Homo sapiens: one gene and its partners. The protein of the gene in region 4 interacts with the protein of the main gene of each other region in a pairwise test. Each region holds a gene or a part of one and is shown on either strand. Other genes may lie near its edges.

Region 1 (5,088 bases), on a different chromosome or scaffold from region 4:
TTCAACTTTGAAAGGAGTTCTACTGTGGGTAAAATGCTATCCAATAGCATCACATACTACAGAGAAATCCTTCATGAAAGGGAGAGCTAATCGATGTGGCAAATTTCATTGTTGTGTTCTTTTAAGAAACTGCCACAGCCACTCCAATCTTCAGCAACCACCACCTTGACCAGCCAGCAGCCATCAACACCGAGGCAAGACCCTCCACCAGCAAAAAGAGTGTGACTCACTGAAGGCTCAGAAGATTGTTAGCATTTTTAACAATGAATTATTTTAAAATTAAGGTATATACATTTTTAGACATAATGCTATTGCACACTTAGTAGACTACACTGTAGTGTAAACATAACGTTTTATGCACTGTCAAACAAAAAACAATGTGTGTGACTCACTTTATTGCAGTGGTCTGGAACCGAACCTGCAGTATCTCTGAAGGACACCTGTATTGGGTAACAGGCATTGAGCTGAGTAAGATATGATCCCAGGTTATCACAGATAGAATCGCTTGAGCACCTTTCATGTCATCAGGCCTTCTAGATTAAATTTAATGTCTCCAAACAATTTATGAACTATGATTCTTTATTTCCATCTTATGGACTAGGAACCTGGAGCTGAGGAAATTTGGAAGACTTTCCTCAAGTCACGTGGTTTTTTTTTATATGGATGACAACTCCAGTCTGTCTCTGGAAGTCATGTCTAACATCTCATCTGGAGCTGGGCAAGCTCCTCAGCCCAGCCTGGACCCAGGGTTATCTGGGATCCATGCCACACACCCAGTCCACACACCTGAACGTCGCCAGGGAAGCCAGTGGGATTGTTCCTGAATTGCTTCCTCTTACCAGATATCATGTTAATCTTCTCAGAGGTAGTTGGTTTTCCCGGGGGGCACAGCTGTTTCCCATCGTTTTGTGGGCCAGATGCTTCTGGCACTTCCTTCGAAACATTTCCTTCCTCTGCTGGCTTCTTGGGCATGATCTTTATAATGTGAAGGTCATAGATAAATAGTATCAGTGACATTTCTATAGTGCTTTTGAGCTTACAAAGGGTCTTCACATGCATTAGCTTATTCAATGTTCTCAACAACACTGGGAGAGTTACACAGGCCTAAATTAGGAGAAACCTGGGAGGGGAGGTTAGAAGGGAAAGGAATGGCCTAAGTGAATATGGTTTCCAGGGATAGAATGCTTATCTTCCCACTCTTTTAGGACTCACATTCTTGCAAACAGCAAAAATCTCCATTTAATTGAGAGTGTGATATACAGATGATTTGGAGAAGAGTAGCATTCTAAGAATTCACAAGGTCTACAAAGGGAAGAGGTTCTGTAAAATACAAGGGATCCCATATAAGCTTGTAGACAGCTGCTGGGAGAGTAAATGTAAAAACATAGGGAGGCGACAAAACACTGCTGGGAAAGATGGTGTGGGGAGATGAACACAAGGAAGGGAGAGGGAAATAAATGGCTTGCTGAAATTAATCTAGGCAGCAAACAAAGCAGTACCAGATATGACATACTACCCTACCGAGGCACCAATTGAATGTGGAATTCAGTGAGGTGGTACCCATACCAATTCTGGTTGCATTGGGATGTGTACTGACCAACAATCTTAAGCTGCTTTCTTTTTCTTTTTTTTTTTTTTTTTTGAGACGGAGTCTTGCTGTGTCGCCAGAATGGGGAGCCGTGGCATGATATCGGCTCAAGGCAATATCTGACTCCCGCGTTTAAGCGATTCTCCTTCCTTAGCCTCCAGAGTATCTGGGACTACAGGCAGGCACTACCACGCCCCACTAAGTTTTGTATTTTTAGTAGAGACGAGGTTTCACCATGTTGGGCAGGATGGTCTCGATCTCCTGACCTTGTGATCTGCCCGACTCAGCCTCCCAAAGTGCTGGGATTACAGTCGTGAGCCACCGCGCCCTGATCTTAAGCTACTTTTAATTCAGCTTCCTCCCTTATGAAATAGTGAACCATACATGTAAAATAGGCTACAAGAAAGTGCTCTCTGAGCTTGTAAACACTCTTTAAATGTAGTAATAATAACAATTAATACCTTTCACAATCCTTCTTTGAATTCAGTCTCCACACTGGCAACCCAACTCCCAGATCCCTTTACCCTCCAAACCAGAGTTGAATCTGCACTTGTGGGATCACTCATTCAGGGGCCTCCGAGGGATCCCCTGGGCTGGGACTGGGGCTTCCCAGACGCCCCAGGTGCAGACAAGGCACTCAAGGAGCTCACAGTAGGGAGGGGCCAACAATCAAAGCGATTCCTAAGCCATGCAAGTGGCCCCAGTAACACAGCAGAGACCAGATGGTCCTTCCTGTTGCGAGAGTGGGTGTCTCAATGGAAGCACCAGCAGGCCCTATGGGGTGAAGCCCTAGTGAGCAACATCTGAACTTCATAAACAAATGCAAACGTGAATGAGCTTTAAATGGCTTGGAGCTCTGGATTAGACTACCACTGACACTGCGCCTCAGGAAAATTCTTTAACATCTCTGTACCACGATAGCCTCATTTTATTATTATGTTGCTGATAACTATGATCTAAAACATAAACTATAATTCTTTACTTCCATTTCATGGACCAGGAATCTGGAGCTCAGAGAACTCAGAAGATTTGTGCCAAGTCATATGGCTATCATATGGATGAAAACTGAAATGTGTTACTCATTATTATTCGGAGATAATAGAAACAATGTCTTCTTAAGGATTAAATAAATTAATCCATGTGAACTGCTTGAAATAGTATCTGGCATCACTATGAAAACAAAAGAGGTATGAACAATCACAAATGTTGGTACTATCAAGCCGTCGGTGCTACATCAGGTGTTGTGATAGACATGGGGAGAAGAAGGCAGTGAGGGCATTGTTGATATTCTCCCACTCTTACCAGTGTTCGCATCCTTGGAGGGACAAAGGTTCTCTGGTCCTTTAGATCTGAAAGATACTCACCTTCGGGAAGATTCCCTGGAGCCTGCCGAAAGTCATCTGAGGACGTTGAACTGAAAGAGAATACATCAGAATTTTTCATTGTTGGTAAAGGTTTCCAAACTCTAGAGAGACTTCTGTCGCATCAGGGTATTCTGCAGCAGAGGCTTATGAGTCCACGCATTGTTGAGGAGTTATTTCAGATTTGCTTCTGAATTATGTTTAGTCATGGTTGATGCATTTATCTGTGGCATCAATTCAGAATTTTCCATCTCATGGTTTATCACATGGGGACTACACCCCATCACAGTCTCATCTTATTCGATTACATATCTTTTACTTTTTCCCAAATAATTAAATTGATTGGTTAGGAATCTGAACTGTATCCACTCAAGATGTGCAACAACTGAAAATCATTGTACACTTCAAATGGGTGAATCTTATGGTATGTGAATTAAGCTGTTAAATGTGTGGTGAACCACGGATGATTTGGTCCAGTGGCTCTGAAAGATTTTCAGTACAAAGACAGTCCTTTAACGTTAAAAACTTGGCAGATACTCAAGCACTGGCTTTTCAGATCTCTTATAGTGATTGCGGGAGATTGTAGAATCTGGCCTGTTTAGTTGGCGAGTAATAGGTCTATTGGAGACGGTTTGGACATTCTGACCTTGTCTTATAATTATGTTGTCAGAGTAGAAGAGCAAGTAAATACATATGTCCCCTTTATTTTCCTGAAATGCACAAAGCTCTCTACCCAAGAACCTGTCTTTTTTTCATCCTATGTTATCTCTGTTCTCTGACAAGTGGGAAAGCTCTCTGTGTTTTCGATAAGGGATCACTCTTTCAAACTCTCTTTCAAGCTCATCACAGAGAATCAGGGTTATTTGGGAATGAGAAGACTATTTGGTTTTGATAAAATACAGAGAAACAGCGATCTTTATTACATAATGTGTTCATCAACCTCACTCCTAAGATACCTATCCAATACCTACATGCTGTTAATGAAACAACCTCTGGAAGTTTTTGGCGGATCTACAGTTTTAACACTTTCTTTCTTTTTTTTTTTTTTCACTTGTAACATTTTCTTAACTGTCCTTTGATACATTAACAGTGCTTAGGAAGAACAACATGTCATTTAAAAAAGAAATATTTCAAACACACAGAAAAGTATGGGGAATAATATTGAGTCCAGTCGGATCTCAACATTACCCCACAGCTAAGTTAGGTCTGATTTATTTATTCAGAATATTAGAAAAACTGCAAACAGGCCGGGCGTGGTAGCTCACACTTGTAATCCCAGCAGTTTGGAAGGCTGAGGCGGGTGGATCACCTGAGGTCAGGAAGTTTGAGACCAGCCTGGCCAACATGGTGAAACCCCGTCTCTACCATAAATTAAAAAATGAGCTGAGTGTGGGGGCACGTGCGTGTAACCCCAGCTACTCGGGAGGCTGAGGCAGAAGAATCACTTGAACCCAGGAGGTGAAAGTTGGAGTGAGCTGAGATTGCCTTATTGCACTCCACCCTGGCCGAGAAGAGTGAAACTCCATCTCAAAAACAAAAACAAACAAAACACACTATCAACAAGTCACAGCTGAAGCTGTCTGTGCAGCACTCAGCAATCCCTGCCCTCCCTCCCTCCTCCACTTACAGCCAGTCACCTTAGTTTGATGGCTTTTTATTCACATTCATGTTTGTATACATTTACCATTTACTTATTATCCATAAAAATATATATTCTTCTTTTGCATGTTTTAAAATTTTATATGAATGACCTCTGTAGTTAACTTTCTGCATGCAATTTTTTTTTTCACTCTGCCCCGATGTGTATGAGGGAACAAATGCCTGAGGCTCTTTCCCAGGTAGCTGAGCTGAAAAGCAATTGGGCTTGAGGAGACCCTTTCCAGCCCCTTCCCATCTACTCACCCTGATTCCCACGGTTAGGGTCATTATCAAAATCATTCCCCTGGAAGTCTGTGACCCGTTTATTACGCATGAAAGATGGGAGGATGGCCTTGAAACCTAGAAAGAAGCAAAATGTTTATTCCTTAAGAGACAAGCTTGGGCCTGGTACGGTGGCTCATGTCTGTAGTACCAACACTTTGGGAGGCTAAGGCTGGAGGATTGCTTGAGGCCAGGAATTCAAGGCTGCAGTAAGCTATG
Region 2 (4,857 bases), on a different chromosome or scaffold from region 4:
GACCAGTACAGTTTCTCCTGAATTGACAAACTGAACTACTCCTTCTACCGGCTAAACCCTGACATCAGTAGAATCAAACCAAAAACAAGGTAGAGTGTTTCACAGAGAAGTGGTGGATTGAATAAGGCAGCAGAAACACATACCATCCAGCCCCTGAACCTGAATTTTGCCAAAACAGAGATACTTTAAGTCCATTTCTTTTCAAAGGGGTTAATGCTCAAAGTGGGAATAGTGACTAGGGTATTCTAGTGGTTGGAATAATAATTTCTAGAAAAGGTTCATTGCTGAGGTACCAAAACAGACATCATGCTAAGGAATTCTTTTACTGTGCGCTTCCCTGAATAGATACGCCGTCAAACAAGGCAGAAGCTACAAATAAAGCTTACTTCTACTGAACTCATGAAGCTGTTCCTAGTGTCAGTTTTGAGTTTCAAGTGAAGACTGAATGTCAACTGCAGGCTTTCCGAATTCCTCGACCATGTCCATCCATGGATTCTCTTCTTGTCTAGATTTCCAAGCATGAAGATGCTAACTAAAGCATTTCTCAATGGGGAACACGAAAAGATTTCTATTATTGTGGGTTCTCCGGTGTTCCTAAAGGCTGAGTTATAACTAAAGGATTTCAACCTATTTGTGAGTTTGATGGTAACGCTGGAAAAATGCTTGAAGTTGTTACTTTGCTCATTATAGGAGTATGGTTTCCCTCCAGGAAGGTTTCTCTAAAATTAAGAGCTATTCTACAACAGAGACCCCTCTACACTTAAGGTATTTATGGGATCTGTCCTCTCATGGCTTCTCAGGTGTTTAAAGAGGCTACAACTCCAGCTGAAATTCATTCCACATTCTTTACATTGAAAAGGTTTCTCACCAGTATGGATTCTCTGATGTTGATTAAGATGTGACTTCAGAGTGAAGCCTCTGCCACATTCATGACATTGATGGGATTTTGTGCTGGAGTAGATTTTTTGATGTTGTTTGGTGTGGGAACACTGGCCAACATTTTCTCTACATATATCACATTGATAGGGCTTCTCTGCTGTATGAGTTCTGTAATGCTGAATGAGGTCTGAGCTATAACCAAAGGCTTTTCCACAGATATCACACTGATAAGGCTGCTCTTGTAACTCAATCTTCTTGTCTTCAATCACTGTCAAGTTCCAACTATATGCTTCCTCACAGATGCCATTTTTTTCATTTTTCTGACCCATGTGGAGCACCTGATGTTCAATTAGGCTAACGTACTGAAAAAAGATTTCCCCACATTCACGACACTGATGGGATTTCTCTCGGGAGTGGAGTCGAAGATGTCCAGCCAGGTGGGAACGCCTCCCAAAGCCTTTCCCACATTCGTTACACTTGAAGGGTCTCTCCCCACTGTGCACGCTCTGATGCTGAACAAGGTGGGACCTCACTCTGAAGGCTTTCCCACATAAGGGACAGGTGTAGGGCTTCTCACCTGTGTGGACGCGCTGATGCTGAGTTAGGTGCACGCGTTGGTTGTAGCTTTTCCCACATTCCTCACACCTGAATGGTTTCTCCCCAGTGTGTATTCTTTGATGTTGAATAAGATGTGCACTCTGAATGAAGCTTTTCCCACACTCGTTACATTTATGTGGTCTCTCTCCAGTGGAGGATTTTTTGTGGACATATGGGACTTCACTGTAGTTCATCCTCTTTGAAGATGGTTGTCCTAGTATCTCTTTCATGGGAATTCCCTGCTTTCTATCCAGCTTGCCTTGAAACTCACAGCCTTCTCCAAAATCTTGAACTTGAGAAACATTTCTTTGGGTTTTTCCAGATAGTTCCATGTCTGCTTCTGAATATTCTGAAATTTTCTTCTTAACACTTAATTTTGTGTTCTTACTTCTTTTGTCACTGCCTAAAAAAAATAAAGAGCAAGTGAAAATGTCATCAGTTCTTTTTTTTTTTTGAGATGGGGTCTTGCTCTGTCGCCCAGGCTAGAGTGCAATGATGCGATCTCGGCTCACTGCAACCTCTGCCTCCTGGGTTCAAGTGATTCTCCTGCCTCAGCCTCTCAAGTAGCTGAGACTACAGGCGTGCATGACCACACCCAGCTAATTTTTGTATGTTTAGTAGAGATGGGGTTTTGCCATGTTGGCCAGGCTGGTCTCAAACTCCTGACTTTGGGTGATCCACCCGCCTCAGCCTCCCAAAGTGCTGGGATTACAGGTTTAAGCCACCGTGCCTGGCCCATCAGTTCTTTTATAAAGGAAAAATAAACTGTCATAAAAAATGTTCATCAGATGAAACTATGATGTAACGGGAGTAACAGAGGTGGATGTGTGTGTGTACTTGATGCCAACAGGAATGTAAACAACAAACTTTTGGAATTTTCTGACGAAAAGAGCAAGACTCATCCACAGGATGGCAGAAAATATTTGCAAACTATGCATCAGACAAAGGACTAATATCCAGAATCTACAAGTAACTCTAACAAGTCAACAAGAAAAAAAAAATCCCATCAAAAAGTAGGCAAATGACATGGAGACAGTTCTCAAAATAATATATACAAATGACCAACAAACATGAAAAAAATGCTGAACATCACTAATCATCAGGAAGGTGCAAATTAAAGCCACAATAAGGTACTGCCTTACTCCTGCAAGAATGGCCATTATTAAGAAGTCAAAAGGCCGGGCGTGGTGGCTCACACCTGTAATCCCAGCACTATGGGAGGCCGAGGCGGGCAGATCACCTGAGGTCAGGAGTTCGAAACCAGCCTGGCCAACATGGTGAAACCCACATCTCTACTAAAAATACAAAAATTAGCTGGGCATGGTGGCGGGCGCCTGTAATCCCAGCTACTCAGGAGGCTGAGGCAGGAGAATCGCTTGAACCCAGGAGGCTGAGGTTGCAGTGAGCCGAGACTGCGCCATTGCACTCCAGCCTGGGCAACAGCAAGACTCCATCTCAAAAAAAAAAAAAAAAAAAGGCCGGGTGCAGGTGGCTCACGCCTGTAATCCCAGAACTTTGGGAAGCCGAGGTGGGTGGATCACGAGGTCAGGAATTCAAGACCAGCCTGACCAAGACAGTGAAACCCCATCTCTACTAAAAATACAAAAATTAGCTGGGCATGGTGGTGGGTGCCCTGTAATCACAGCTACTCCAGAGGCTGAGGCAGAGAATTGCTTGAACCCAAGAGGCAGAGGTTGCAGTGAGCCAAGATTGCGCCACTGCACTCCAGCCTGGGCAACACAGCGAGACTCCATCTCAAAAAAAACAAAGAAGTCAAAAAACAATAGATGTTGGCATGGATGTGGTGAAAAGGGAACGCTTATACATTGCTGGTGAGAGATAAATTAATACAACTTCTGTGGATAACAGTATGGAGACTTCTTCAAGAACCAGAAGTAGATCTGCCATTTGATCCAGCAATTCCACAACTGGGTATATCTACACAAAGGAAAAGACAATATACCAAAAAGACTGTAAGCGCCTGTCTTCTGCAGCACAATTCACAACTGCAAAGATATGGAGCCAATCTAAGTGCCCGTTGAGCAATGAGTTGATAAAGAAAATGTAGCAGGCTGGGTGTGGTGACTCGTGCCTATAATCCCAGCACTTTGGGAGGCTGAGGCAGGTGGATCACCTGAGGTCAGGAGTTCAAGACCAGCCTGACCAACATGGTAAAACCTCATCTCTACTAAACATACAAAAATTAGCAAGGGATCGTGGTAGGTGCCTGTAGTCCCAGCTACTCGGGAGGCTGAGGCAGAAGAATCGCCTGAACCCAGGAGGCAGAAGCTGCAGTGAGTTGAGATCACATCACTGCACTCCAGCCTGGGTGACAGAGTGAGACTCCATCTCAAAAAAGAAAAACAAAAAACAAATACATAACTGGGTGGTGAGAACTGACAAAAACTGGAAGAATGAGAGTGAAGGATGATGAAGAGGGTATGCAGTCAGGGAATATCTGACTAGGAGTCAGGAAATAAGGCAAAATGAGCCAACAAGAAGCATTGTCAGAGGGTGGGTGATACAGCAATCCCTGCCCCCTTCACCCTTAGCCAACATTCTAGCCTCAGTTTTCCTCCCCCGGCATGTCATCCTTCTCCTTTGGGAATGCTCATCACCTTTACTATCTGCTACCCCCACCAGACCATCGGCTGCATGAGAGCATGGACTGTATCTCTGTTCTGGTCACTGCAGATCCTGTGCAACTAGCAACACAGACTCTCAATAATATGGCTGGATGTGCAAAACATGTATTCCCCCTTTGATCCAGAAAAATGAGGGAGGACCGGGCATGGTGGCTCACACCTGTAACTCCTAGCACTTGTGGAGGCCAAGGCTGGAGGATCGCTTAAGCCTAGAAGTTCAAGACCAGCCTGGGCAACAGAGCCAGACCCCTTCTCTACAAAAAATACATAAATTAGCTGGGTGTGGTGGTGAACACTTGTAGTCCCAGCTATGCAGGAAGCTGAGGTGGGAGGATTAGTTCAGCCCAGGAAGTGGAGGCTGCAGTGAGCTGAGATCCCGCTACTTTACCCTAGCCTGTGTGACAGAGCAAGACCCTATCTCAAAATACAAAAACGCCCCCGCCCCACAAAAAAAATGTGGAAGGCAAGTGAGTATTCACTGGGAAACTAGCCATAGAAACAATTGCAGGGAAGGTAGAAAACAAAAGATAACTATTTTAAAGCGATTGCTTTTTCAAGTCCAAAGCGCTATTGGTGGATTTTCCAAATGAGGGAATCATCGAGTAGAACGGGAAAACACTAGCTGAGAGGATAGCTCAGCTCAAACCCAGAACTTTAAAGACACTTTACTGACTTCTGTGCCATGGTGGAAGATGCAGCGTGGCTGTAAACATCAAAGGCAGAATTAAAAAAAAAA
Region 3 (4,890 bases), on a different chromosome or scaffold from region 4:
CCGGAACGACGCAGGTTTGATTCTGTTTCATGAACGTGACCTCAAGTGGCTACAACTTCCTTTTTCTGGAAACTGCTGTCTTGCTTTGTAACTCTCCAGCATATACAGAGAGCACTGCTCGACTTCCGCCATGGAAGCTGAGGTCTAAACCATTACTATCTGCTGCCTCAGGCGGTCTGGTCTTCCTTGCATGCCAGACGTCCTTGAGGCTCTGTCGTTTAATTGGCTGCAGCTTAATACAAAAGTGGCCTTTCTGGATTAGTCTCCAAGTAAATATTTCATTTGCCTTAAAAAAAAAAAAACTTTGAAGTTCTGTCATATTCTCTGGCAAAAGTCACAAGGAAAGCTATCAGCTTGCTTGTCTTTTTTATAGACAATCCATGCCACAATGAATGTCCCTTGCTCACAAAACCTGCTATGCCTCATTATTCTAAGGCACACATTCGTGTATGTACTTCTTAAACCCCCTTACATTCCAATAGTTGTGTAATGAGAGAGAAAAAGAGAGGTAACATTAACCTAGCTCTATGGGTAATTACAGGATACAATGGCTTAGTGAAGCCTCCGCAATCCTTCTGGGCCTAGAAACACCTTCTGTACAATTTTTTTTTATGCAAAGGCCTGCTCTTTTCATTGCGCATACAACGTGATTGCTGGTTTGACACTGCAGGCTACACTGGTTTTATGAAGGATTAAATGCCACCTGAGACATATTTATCCTAAATAAATCACCGACGGTACACTGCAGCATGTCAGTGTCAACACCCTGGACTGCAGCAGAAAGGTTAGCCATACAGGACTACGCACGGTTAGGAATTAGCATCCGAGCCGAGGGCCGTGGGCTACTGCTAACGGGAGGAGTGATCAAGAAGAAATCTTTCCACTGAAAAACATCCCCCCGCCAACCTTTTTTTTTTTTTTTTTTTTTTTTTTTTTTAACATGTATGAGAAGCCTGGCGAGGGCCATCACTTTGTAAAGGTCACCTTGATCCTGTCACTGTTTGCTGAAGACAGTGTTTAAGAAGCCCTGAATAGCCCTGCCATTGTTAAGAAACATGAGCAAGTCATACTCAGCTAATTATGGATCTCAGTGTCAGCCTTGAAATTTACCTTCAGTTCTTATTTTTTTGGAGGAGTGGCTGTCTAAAGGGAGGTGGCCCTAGGTGGACAGAGCTCAGCAGTGAGAAGGGCGCTAGGAAGAGGCCGGTTCCGCTTCTGAACTGGTCAAAGCGTGAGCTGGTCTCCATGCTCTCTCAGGAAGAGATTTTAAACGGCACTTGTATTTAAACAAAGAAGGTACCACTCTCCTTTCCTCTCATGCCTGCTCTTCACGATTTCTAGATGCTATCCATGATAGAATACGTTATTGTCACCAGAATGCATCTGGGCCATTTGCCAGATGCTGAGAAACAGTATCGGGCTGCAGGGGATGTGCAGCAGTGCTCCGCGTCTGGAGGCCACGAAGGAGGGAGAAGCCAGCAGCCACAAGCGCCGGGGTGCCCCCTCGGTTGCCACAGCTGCCCACCACTGGCTGCTGAAAATAACATGCCATCGTGATCTTTTAACGTTATAATTTTATTTCAAAGAAAACAGAAACAGAACAAAAACAACCTTTGCATTTGAGGGAGGAGATTATTTTACAGTTTTGGAAAAGAATAAGAACAATTGTATCAGGAAACAAATGATTATGACAGAAACTCGCATCCGACAGCTGCAGTGAATCCACGAGGACACAGACCATGCTGGTGGCCACAGCAGGGCCACAGGTGAATCCACAAGGAAACACAGACCATGCTGGCAGCCACGGCAGGGCCACAGGGCACGGTCTCCATGTGTTAATGTTTAATGTCAGCATTTTCATATGGACAGAAATCACGAAGAAATCCTGCAAAAATGGCATCAATATGAACAAACCCTTGTTATAAAAAGCAAAATATTGATAGGAACAATATCTTCCAGCGTGTGCGTTTCACATTTAGGCTTTACTGTATGAAACTAAGTCAAAATTAGAAGCACTGGCTATCTCCACCGACATATATTTTAACTGAATATAAACTTCAAGGCTTTTCTTAACCATAGGCTTAAGAGGATTTCTTTTATGCAGAATGTGACCAGAGCAACAAATACACCTAAACTGTTTGAAGATGGGAAATTTATACATGAAATGAGCTAGCAGGCTTCCTTTGGTATGGGGACACTGTTATTCTAAAATTAAAAAAAAAAAATTGAATGGAAGTGGACTGCTTCAAGATGGTAACACTTGTAGCTGCAATTTTTAGCCCAGTAGAGAATGAAATGGAAAGGCAGCTACATGCTGACTGCACAAGCAGGTGCACCCCAAGCCAGGAGGGGTATCTTCACCACTTTCCCCACGGCCATGACCTTCTGATAACTGAAATGGGAAAACACTTGGGAGAGAAAAACACCAACAACACTTGGCTTCTCTTCAGCACAGCGGCCAGGACGAAGCGGGAGGCCACTGATCGAAGGGCCCCCAGTGGACCGGAGCTCCCTGTGCGGCCTGCGCCCGGCCCTCCCCTGCACTTGGCAGCCTGCTCCCCGAGGCCCAGCCCACGGTACCCTCTGTGGGCGCCTGGCTGGTGGCCAGTGTGACTCTCGCTGGGAGGGCATGCTCAGAGCTCACGGGAGCCTTGTCCTCATGGTTTTGAAGGTTTCAGATGAAGCTCAGGGAACACGGTCCCCCACCGAAGCTGGACCTTCCCACACCTGCCCTGTGCTGAGTAAAGGTGCCGCGCGTCTCATGCTTCCTGGAGTTCGCTGCTTTCTCTTTGGCTCTGAATTGCCGCCGCGGCCGAGGAGCCCTCCTGGGTGTAGATGACCACGCTGGCCAGCTGCTCTGCCCTGCTTGGGGCCCCGGCCTCTGTGCCTAGCGTGGCCCCGGCCTGCAGGAGTTCCTGCGAGTCCGCAGTCTCCAGCACGGTGTGGGAGTACAGGCCCGGCTCGTCCTGCACCCCTGGGGGCAGCTCTGTCAGGATGTAGTGCGTGGTGCCCTCGGAGAAGCCGCCACTGGACTCCTGCACCATGGCCTGGACCAGCTCCTCCGTCACGATGATCTGCGAGATCTCCCCGTCGGACTCCACCAGATCCATGTGCTCGCCCTGCGCCTCCTGCATGATGATCTGGGCACCCTCCCCGGCGACCATGTGGACGGCACCCTCTTCGCTCACCACCACCTGGGTGACACCGTCCTTGACCAACTGGCCGGCCGCGGCCGTGTCACACACAGCAAACTGGAGGACGCCCTGGACCATCTTCTTGAAGGCCACCTGTGCCCGCTCCTGAGAGGCCATGGCTGCTGAGGGATGGACCACCTGGGTGAGCACCTCCACGGCGGCCGGGCTCTCCTGGGCCTGTGGGAACATCTGGATCTCGGGGGCCTCGGGGTCGGCAGCCACATGGGAGACCTCCTGCCCGGGCAGCTGGATCAGCACGTCTTTGGCGCCGGGCCTGCCTTGCTCCTCGAGCCCAGCCCTGCCCTCCACCTCCCCTAATTCAGTGACCGCACAGAGCAATGCATCCAGGGCTGAGGATGCCTCGGGGGGAGCGACTCCAGCCTCCGAGAGGTTTAAAATCTCCTGCTTGGTCACCTGTTGTATCACAGCGCCACCTGGACTGAGGGACTCATCCATGCCGTGGCCTTCCATGGAGCCCCCCACGACGACCACCTGGGTGGCTCCATCAGCCAGCTGCTCGGGGAGGATGGGTCCGGGCACCACGCTGCCTACATGTGCCCCGCTCTGACTCGTGGCGATGACCTGGCCATCCTCCGTGATATGCACCACCCGGGCCACCTGGCCGGCCATGGCCAGCGTCTGCAGCGTGGCGGCGGCCGTCTCCTCCACCGAGGGGTCCAGGGCAAACTCCCCGTCGTAGCCCTGGAAGATGATGACCTGCTGCACCTGCTCAGGGGGCGGCGCTGGCCTCCTGCTGCTTCTGAGGGGCTTCTCCTTGACGAGGGGCTCTTCTGCCAAGGCCGCCGCGGTGAAGGGGCTGTCTGTCTCCACGAAGGTGGCTCCTTGTCCCTTTAGACGGCACTCGTACGACTTGGAAACAATGCCTAAGGGAGACAGGGACCAGTTAGAGCCTGGAAAAAGTACTCGTAGGCTTACAAGTAAGACACTTCTTCTGCAGAAGCGCTCAGGCCTCAGCAGAGTCACCACGACCCCCTATTCCAAACCCTGAAGAGCTCTCTACAGTGCAAGCTTCAGCAGGGCCAGAGGCCTCCGTGGGCATCTGCAGGCAGGCTCTAGGCTCAAGGGCACACACAGTTAATACTGGGTGTGCATTTCCCCACAGCCCTGTGAGCTGTCCAATACAACTCTTTGCAGGGGTGTGCGCCTCTCCAATGCCCAGGGAAGGAGGCTGGATACCTCCCCCCAACCACCATCATGTCTTTTGTAACAATGCGTTCCGTCACGGGTGCTAAGTAAAGTTCAGCAAACAGCCAGCAGTAGTATCTCCTAACCCAACGGAAAATCTTTTTTTAATGACCAAATATTATATATGGTATATTTGTTTATTCAGCAAAAAGAATGAAAGCCTTGCATATTAAATTTTAAAAAATGTCATCAATAAACACCGCTGTAAAAGTTTAATGCAACAAATATTTATTGAACATCGACGTTTCAGGTGCTGAACCTGGGCAGGCAGCCTGTGCGGCCATGTGAGTCGCCGTGTCCTGGCAGCATGCAGGGCACTCTGCAGGGTGCTGGGCACATGCAGACACAGGGTCCTGGCCACTCAGGGGCTGAGAGGGGAGTCTATACTGCAGAACTGGGCAGCGGGCTTCGAGGGGACAGACTCAGCCTTCCTCTTCTCTGTCCCATCTTCCGGACAGTGCCTTGGATTGAATAAGTAATCAACAAAGAT
Region 4 (5,692 bases):
AGTGAAGTTCCTACAGGGATGTAAAGATTCTCTACCCATGCAACCACCTACGTGTGGCTAGGAGCACCTGAAATAGGAACTGAATTTTAAATTTAAATTCCATTTAAATGGAAGCAGCCAGGTGGGCTACATAATAATGGATGACACCACCACCAGCAGCAGGTCTACCCATGGTGTTATCTTTGCTGTCTTCCTGACTTTCCTACCAGGTCCAAGCTGGGGGTGGAGACCAGGAAGAGGGCAAGGGAGACTGGAGACTCTGAAAAGAGAGGGAAAGTGGGAAGAGTAATTTTAAAATAACCTTTTGTGGCCGGGTGCCGTGGCTCACACCTGTAATCCCAGCACTTTGGGAGGCCCGGGTGGGTGGATCACCTGAAGTCAGCAGTTCAAGACCAGCCTGACCGACATGGCGAAACCCCGTCTACTAAAAATACAAAAATTAGCCGGCGTGGTGGTGCACACCTCTAATCCCAGCTACGTGGGAGGCTGAGGCAGGAGAATTGCTCCAACCCAGGAAACAGAGGTTGCAGTAAGCCAAGATCGCACCACTGTACTCCAGCCTGAGTGACAGCGTGAGATTCCATCCCAAAAAAAATAAATAACCAAAAATGAGTTGGGCGTGGTGGCACGCACCTGTAATCCCAGCTACTCGGGAGGCTGAGACAGGAGAAATGCTTGAACCCAGGAGGCGGAGATTGCAGTGAGCTGAGACTGTGCCACTGCACTCCAGCCTGAGCGACAGAGTAAGACTCTGTCTCAAAAAAAAAAAAAAAAAAGAAAAGAAAAAAAAGAAGTTACCTTTTGTACATTTTCCAAGCCGACTATGGTGAACATATAACTGAAGAAAACATTAAAAGTTGTAAAAATAAAAATAAGCAGGGAGGTTTCGTTTGTTTGTCTTTAACAATTGTACTCTGGACTGATCCGCTGGTGAGAATATAAATTGGCACGACCTTTCTGGAAAGCACTGTGGCCATTTATATATCAAGAACACTTGGTAGACTGCGTGCAAGATGCGAGATTCAGGCACCAAGATTCACTACAAAAGTGCCCAACAGTTGAACGTGGTGGGATCAACTACCTCCCCCATCATGTGATGGGAGTATTCAACCGTGCCCAGTACACAACACTATGACATGACCACGGGGAGTAGACACATGATGTACAGATGACATGAGGCACAGGGAACGTGGGATGCAGGATGATGCGTGAGTGTCATAGAAAGGGAGTCCTGGGAAGACGCCCATGGGGGGCGGCCAAGTGCTTTGTGCTGTTCATACTTCTCTGAATCTCCTCCAAATGGTGTCGGGCTCCCATGTGACCTTCATCAACATGGAAAAACAAAACAAAACAAGACATCTTTAGGAAGGATTTTTGACCATATGGGAAATGCTTATGACAAGTGAAAAGGAGGGATTCCATGGGATTTTTCCCTCTTCATCCTCTGCTGCATTTTTCATACACTCTGCAGTTCTCGTGCATCTGGTTTTACAATCCAGGAGAAAGGAGAGGTGCAGGGTGGCAGAAAGGCAACTCACGGGGACTGTGCCCAGCCAGCCATCTTCGAGTCAGCGTACCCGGCCACCTGCACCCTGATTGGGAAACTACCAGCTTGGTCTTCCCTGCCAAGGCCACAGGCAAAAATGCTCTCTTATGTTGTATTCACACTTTTATATATGTAGTTTTGAATAAGAAAAAAGGGCCTATTTTGAAGCTCCACAGGTTCAAGAAATCCCTTTGCCCTGGGGCCTCAGACCTTATACTCTCTCAGGTGCTCATGGCAGCTCACCCTGGAGACTCTAGGGAGGGGGGCTGTAGCCCCTCAGCATCCTCCAGGGTCCTGGGCTGAGGTCTGTGGGAGGAGATGCTAAGTTTATCAGGGATGAGGGTAAAGAGGAGGTCTTAGCAGAAGGCACCAGAGGTCCATGGGTGTGTCTGGGGTCTATATGGGGGCTGATGTGGAACACCTAGGCCAATGTGGGGGTACCTGAGCTGATGAGAGTCCTGGACTGATGGGTGGCTGTTTCTGGAAGATGAAGAGGGCCTGGGATGATGTGAAGGGGACTGAGGTCTACATGGCTGGTGAGGAGGATCTGGGCCCCCCCATGGGCAATGCTGTGGTGGCCCTGGGGTCCTAGAAGTCTACTTTGGTAGGGGTCTCTGATTAATGTTGGGGATGTGTGTGTGTGAGAGAGTGTCACTTGGAGGGCTCAGTGCCTGTGGAAGGGCCAGGTTCACCTGGCATGGGCACTGAGATCTGCAGCCCGAGCCCCAAATTCTATTGCGGGGATGGGCAGAAGGGCTTTGCCGCTGATGCCGGATGCTTAGTGACATAGAAGACGTGTTCACTGCGCCAGTCAGTGAATGGTTCTGGCTTTGAGAAGGGGGCTTACAGTGGGGAGGGCGTTGGGAGCTTAGGATGCCACACGGAGGAGTTCCATAATAAACGAGCTGGGGAAGTGTGCAAGGGCAGCGCACTGGGAATACAGGGGAGGGGCAGCGACGACGGCTGTGGACGGCTGGTTGGGGGGAGGATGGTGGGGTGATTGGGTGGGGGATGGGTCGGGGGCGGCTGTTCAGGAGGGAGATGGGCCTGGGGCGGGGAGGGGGAGCTTGTAGGGAGAGAGACGGGTCGGGGGCTGCTGTTCCAGTGGGGGATGGGCCCAAGGGGCCGGGTAGGGAGGGAGATGGGTCCGGGGGCGGCTGTTCAGGAGGGAGATAGGTCCCGGGATGCTGATCAGGTGTGGAAGGGAGAACTTGGACGCGGCCGAGCGGTGTTTGGGCGGGCAATGGGGGTACGTAGAGGGGCTTCGGCCTCAAACGGACAGGCGGATGCCAACAGGGGTCGGGGTCCCTGCGGAAGGGGCGGCCCCAGCCCCCCCAGTCCCCGCCCCGCGTGGCCTCTAGCCTTCCCCTTCCCTCCCCTACGGCGACCTCAGGACTCCCGATGGGCTCTGGAACCCCGGCCCGGCCCGCCCCCTCCCGGGCCCGGGCCCGCCTCCCCCGACGCGCGCCCCTGGACCGCGATCCCGGGCCAGCTCCCGCCGACGCGGCGCCGAGACCCTCCCGGGTGGGCGTCCCGATGGACGCTCTGGCGGGCGGAGGGACGGATGGGCCGCGGCGGACTCACCGCGCGCGGGCTTCGCTCGGGCCTGGGCCACTCGGTCATGGCGACCCCTGGGCTGGCGAGCGCGCCCAACGCCGCGGGCGGACCCCATCCCCGCACCCTGCGCGCCGCGGGCGGCCGCCATTGGTCCGCTGGATCACGCCGGGCGTCGGTGACAAGTCACCGCTGCGGGACTCCCGGGCAGGGGCGGGGCTGTGACGCACGAGGCGGCCGAGGCCAATCAGAAGCCGCCTGGGATGAGCGCCCCGCCCCCGCCGTGCCCTCCAGTTACCTCGGGCCGCGGTTCCAGTCGCCTTGGCAACGGGTCGCGCAGCGTCAGGGACGCTGCTGCGGAAAGTGGAGACGGTGGCGGCTGCGGGGATGCGCATGTACGATGGGGCCGCGGGGCAAAACGACGGCATTCCAGACACGCAACCGTTTTATACAGTGTCCAAGAGTAGTATGTTAAAACATTGTTTTTAATATAAATATGTTTAGTACAAGTATGTCCCAGACTAGGATCGCCACTCTTAGCAAATAAAAATACAGGACGTCGGCCGGGCGCGGTGACACGCCTGTAATCCCAGCACTTTGGGAGGCCAAGGCAGGCGGATCACGAGGTCATGAGTTCGAGACCAGCCTGACCAATATGGTGAAACCCCCGTCTCTACTAAAAATACAAAAATTACCTGGGCGTGGTGGCGCATGCCTGTAATCCCAGTTTCTCAGGAGGCTGAGACAGGAGAATCACTGGAACCGGGGAGGCGGAGGTTGCAGTGAGCCGAGATTGCTCCATTGCACTCCAGTTTTCCAGCGTGGGTGACAGAGCGAGACTCCGTCCCCCCACCCCCAAAAAAAAGAAAGAAAAAAGAAACCTCAGTTATATGTAAACTCAAGAAAAACAAGGAGGCCGGGCGCGATAGCTCACGCCTGTAATCCCAGAACTCGGGAGGCCGAGGCAGGCGGATCACCTGAGGTCGGGTGTTTCAGACCAGCCTGGCCAACATGGTGAAACCCCGTCTCTACTAAAAATACAAAAATTAGCCAGGCATGGTGGTGCGTGCCTGTAATCCCAGCTACTCGGGAGGCTGAGGTAGGAGAATCGCTGGAACTGGGGAAGCCGAGGTTGCAGTGAGCCGAGACCTGCCAACGCACTCCAGCCTTGCCTGGGCAACAGAGTGAGACTCTGTCTCAAAAAAAAAAAAAAAAAAAAAAAAAGAAAGAAAGAAAAAGAAAAACAAGGAATTAGTATCAATGTGTCCTATATTTCATATACTTTAACGAAACCTTACATAAGAACATTTCATATAAATAAGTTTTAATATTAATGTCTACAATGTAACCATGTGCCAGAATAGTAGGGTTCCACAGATACTCGTTTTGTATCTGAAATCAGGTGGGGGTGAGATCATGATGCAAGGAGGGTCCTCAGCTCTGGGACTGAGCTCAGGATAGCTGAAGCTGCTCATTGCTGAAGAAGAAGCAGGAGAGTGTGAGCTAAGAAAAGAGAGGAGGACCCACCTCCAGGGGGTCCAGCATCTGCTGGACAGCTGTTTATTGAGGGCCTATGTGTACCAGGCACTGTTCTGGACACTGGGGTGGGAGCACATCAGTGAGAGGGACTGATAGGGCTTTAGTCCCTTGGAAGCCCATGTTCATGGGGCAAACACCAGTAAACAAAGCAGATGCTTCATGGAAATATAAATACCTAGAATAAAATAAAACGAGGCCTGGAGATTAAGAGTCCCAGGAGTGGCAGGGAGGGGAGGGGCTGCCTCAGCTGGATAATCAGAGCCGTGTCTCCGCATCTTTGCTGCTGGCGGCTGGTCCCTGGAATGTTGTGTGTGAATGCCACTTTGTGCAGAAACCACTATGGGAAAACCAAATTAGGGTGCTAAGGGCTTATTATTCTCCTTCTTGAAAATTAGGCACTTGTAATGACATGGTTCATTTTCTTGGTAGCTGAAATTGGCGTGGCCCTTTGGGGCAGTGAAGGCTCATGTGTGCATTTATAACTGCCACCCATTTGGGAAATCTCCCTTGAGAGAACACTGACTTAGTCTGTCTCTAGAGTCTGGATCTAGACACCATCATAGGCCACCTGGTAACTCTAGATCCATTGGGAGGCAGCCTGGTGTCTAGCAGAGGTTTCAGTTTTTTTTTGTTTGTTTGTTTTGTTTTTTTTAAAAAGAGTCTTGCTCTTGTTGCCCAGGCTGGAGTGCAAAGGCGTGATCTTGGCTCACTGCAACCTCCACCTCTCGGGTTCAAGTGATTCTCCTGCCTAAGCCTCCAGAGTAGCTGAGATTACAGGTGCCCACCACCACATTCAGCTAATTTTTTTGTATTTTTAGTAGAGACGGGGTTTTACCATGTTGGCCAGGCTGGTCTTGAACTCCTGACCTCAGGTGATCCACCTGCCTCGGCCTCCTAAAGTGCTGGGATTACAGGCATGAGCCACCGTACCCGGACCAAAATTTTTTTAAGCAGTAGAAATCTTTGTCCCAAATTAAATCTTACTCGAAATCCCAATTAAAAGTAAATCAGCTAAAAGCAGAACTGTTATGGGTGCCAGGGGCTAGAAGAAGG

What was found. Proteins that work in one complex are often made in the same cells at the same time.
Region 1: the proteins of ZSCAN1 (region 4) and SSX3 interact in a two-hybrid assay, tested with the Homo sapiens proteins (one large-scale study listed by BioGRID and IntAct).
Region 2: the proteins of ZSCAN1 (region 4) and ZKSCAN5 interact in a two-hybrid assay, tested with the Homo sapiens proteins (one large-scale study listed by BioGRID and IntAct).
Region 3: the proteins of ZSCAN1 (region 4) and ZNF407 interact in a two-hybrid assay, tested with the Homo sapiens proteins (one large-scale study listed by BioGRID and IntAct).

Annotation. Positions count from the first base shown.
Region 1 is NC_000023.11:48,349,148-48,354,235, forward strand, and holds part of SSX3 (protein SSX3), read right to left. Parts: intron 4,948-5,088; coding exon 4,852-4,947; intron 3,003-4,851; coding exon 2,953-3,002; intron 976-2,952; coding exon 840-975; intron 441-839; coding exon of another isoform or gene 394-440; exon of another isoform or gene 250-393; intron 1-249. UniProt on the Homo sapiens protein: Could act as a modulator of transcription.
Region 2 is NC_000007.14:99,528,130-99,532,986, reverse strand, and holds part of ZKSCAN5 (zinc finger protein with KRAB and SCAN domains 5), read right to left. Parts: intron 1,880-4,857; coding exon 738-1,879; 3' UTR 1-737. UniProt on the Homo sapiens protein: May be involved in transcriptional regulation.
Region 3 is NC_000018.10:75,062,338-75,067,227, reverse strand, and holds the end of ZNF407 (zinc finger protein 407), read right to left. Parts: intron 4,079-4,890; coding exon 2,760-4,078; 3' UTR 1,557-2,759; downstream 1-1,556. UniProt on the Homo sapiens protein: May be involved in transcriptional regulation.
Region 4 is NC_000019.10:58,031,600-58,037,291, reverse strand, and holds the start of ZSCAN1 (zinc finger and SCAN domain-containing protein 1), read right to left. Parts: upstream 3,268-5,692; 5' UTR 3,131-3,267; intron 2,550-3,130; exon of another isoform or gene 1,323-2,549; 5' UTR 1,281-1,322; exon of another isoform or gene 810-1,280; coding exon of another isoform or gene 799-809; intron 1-798. UniProt on the Homo sapiens protein: May be involved in transcriptional regulation.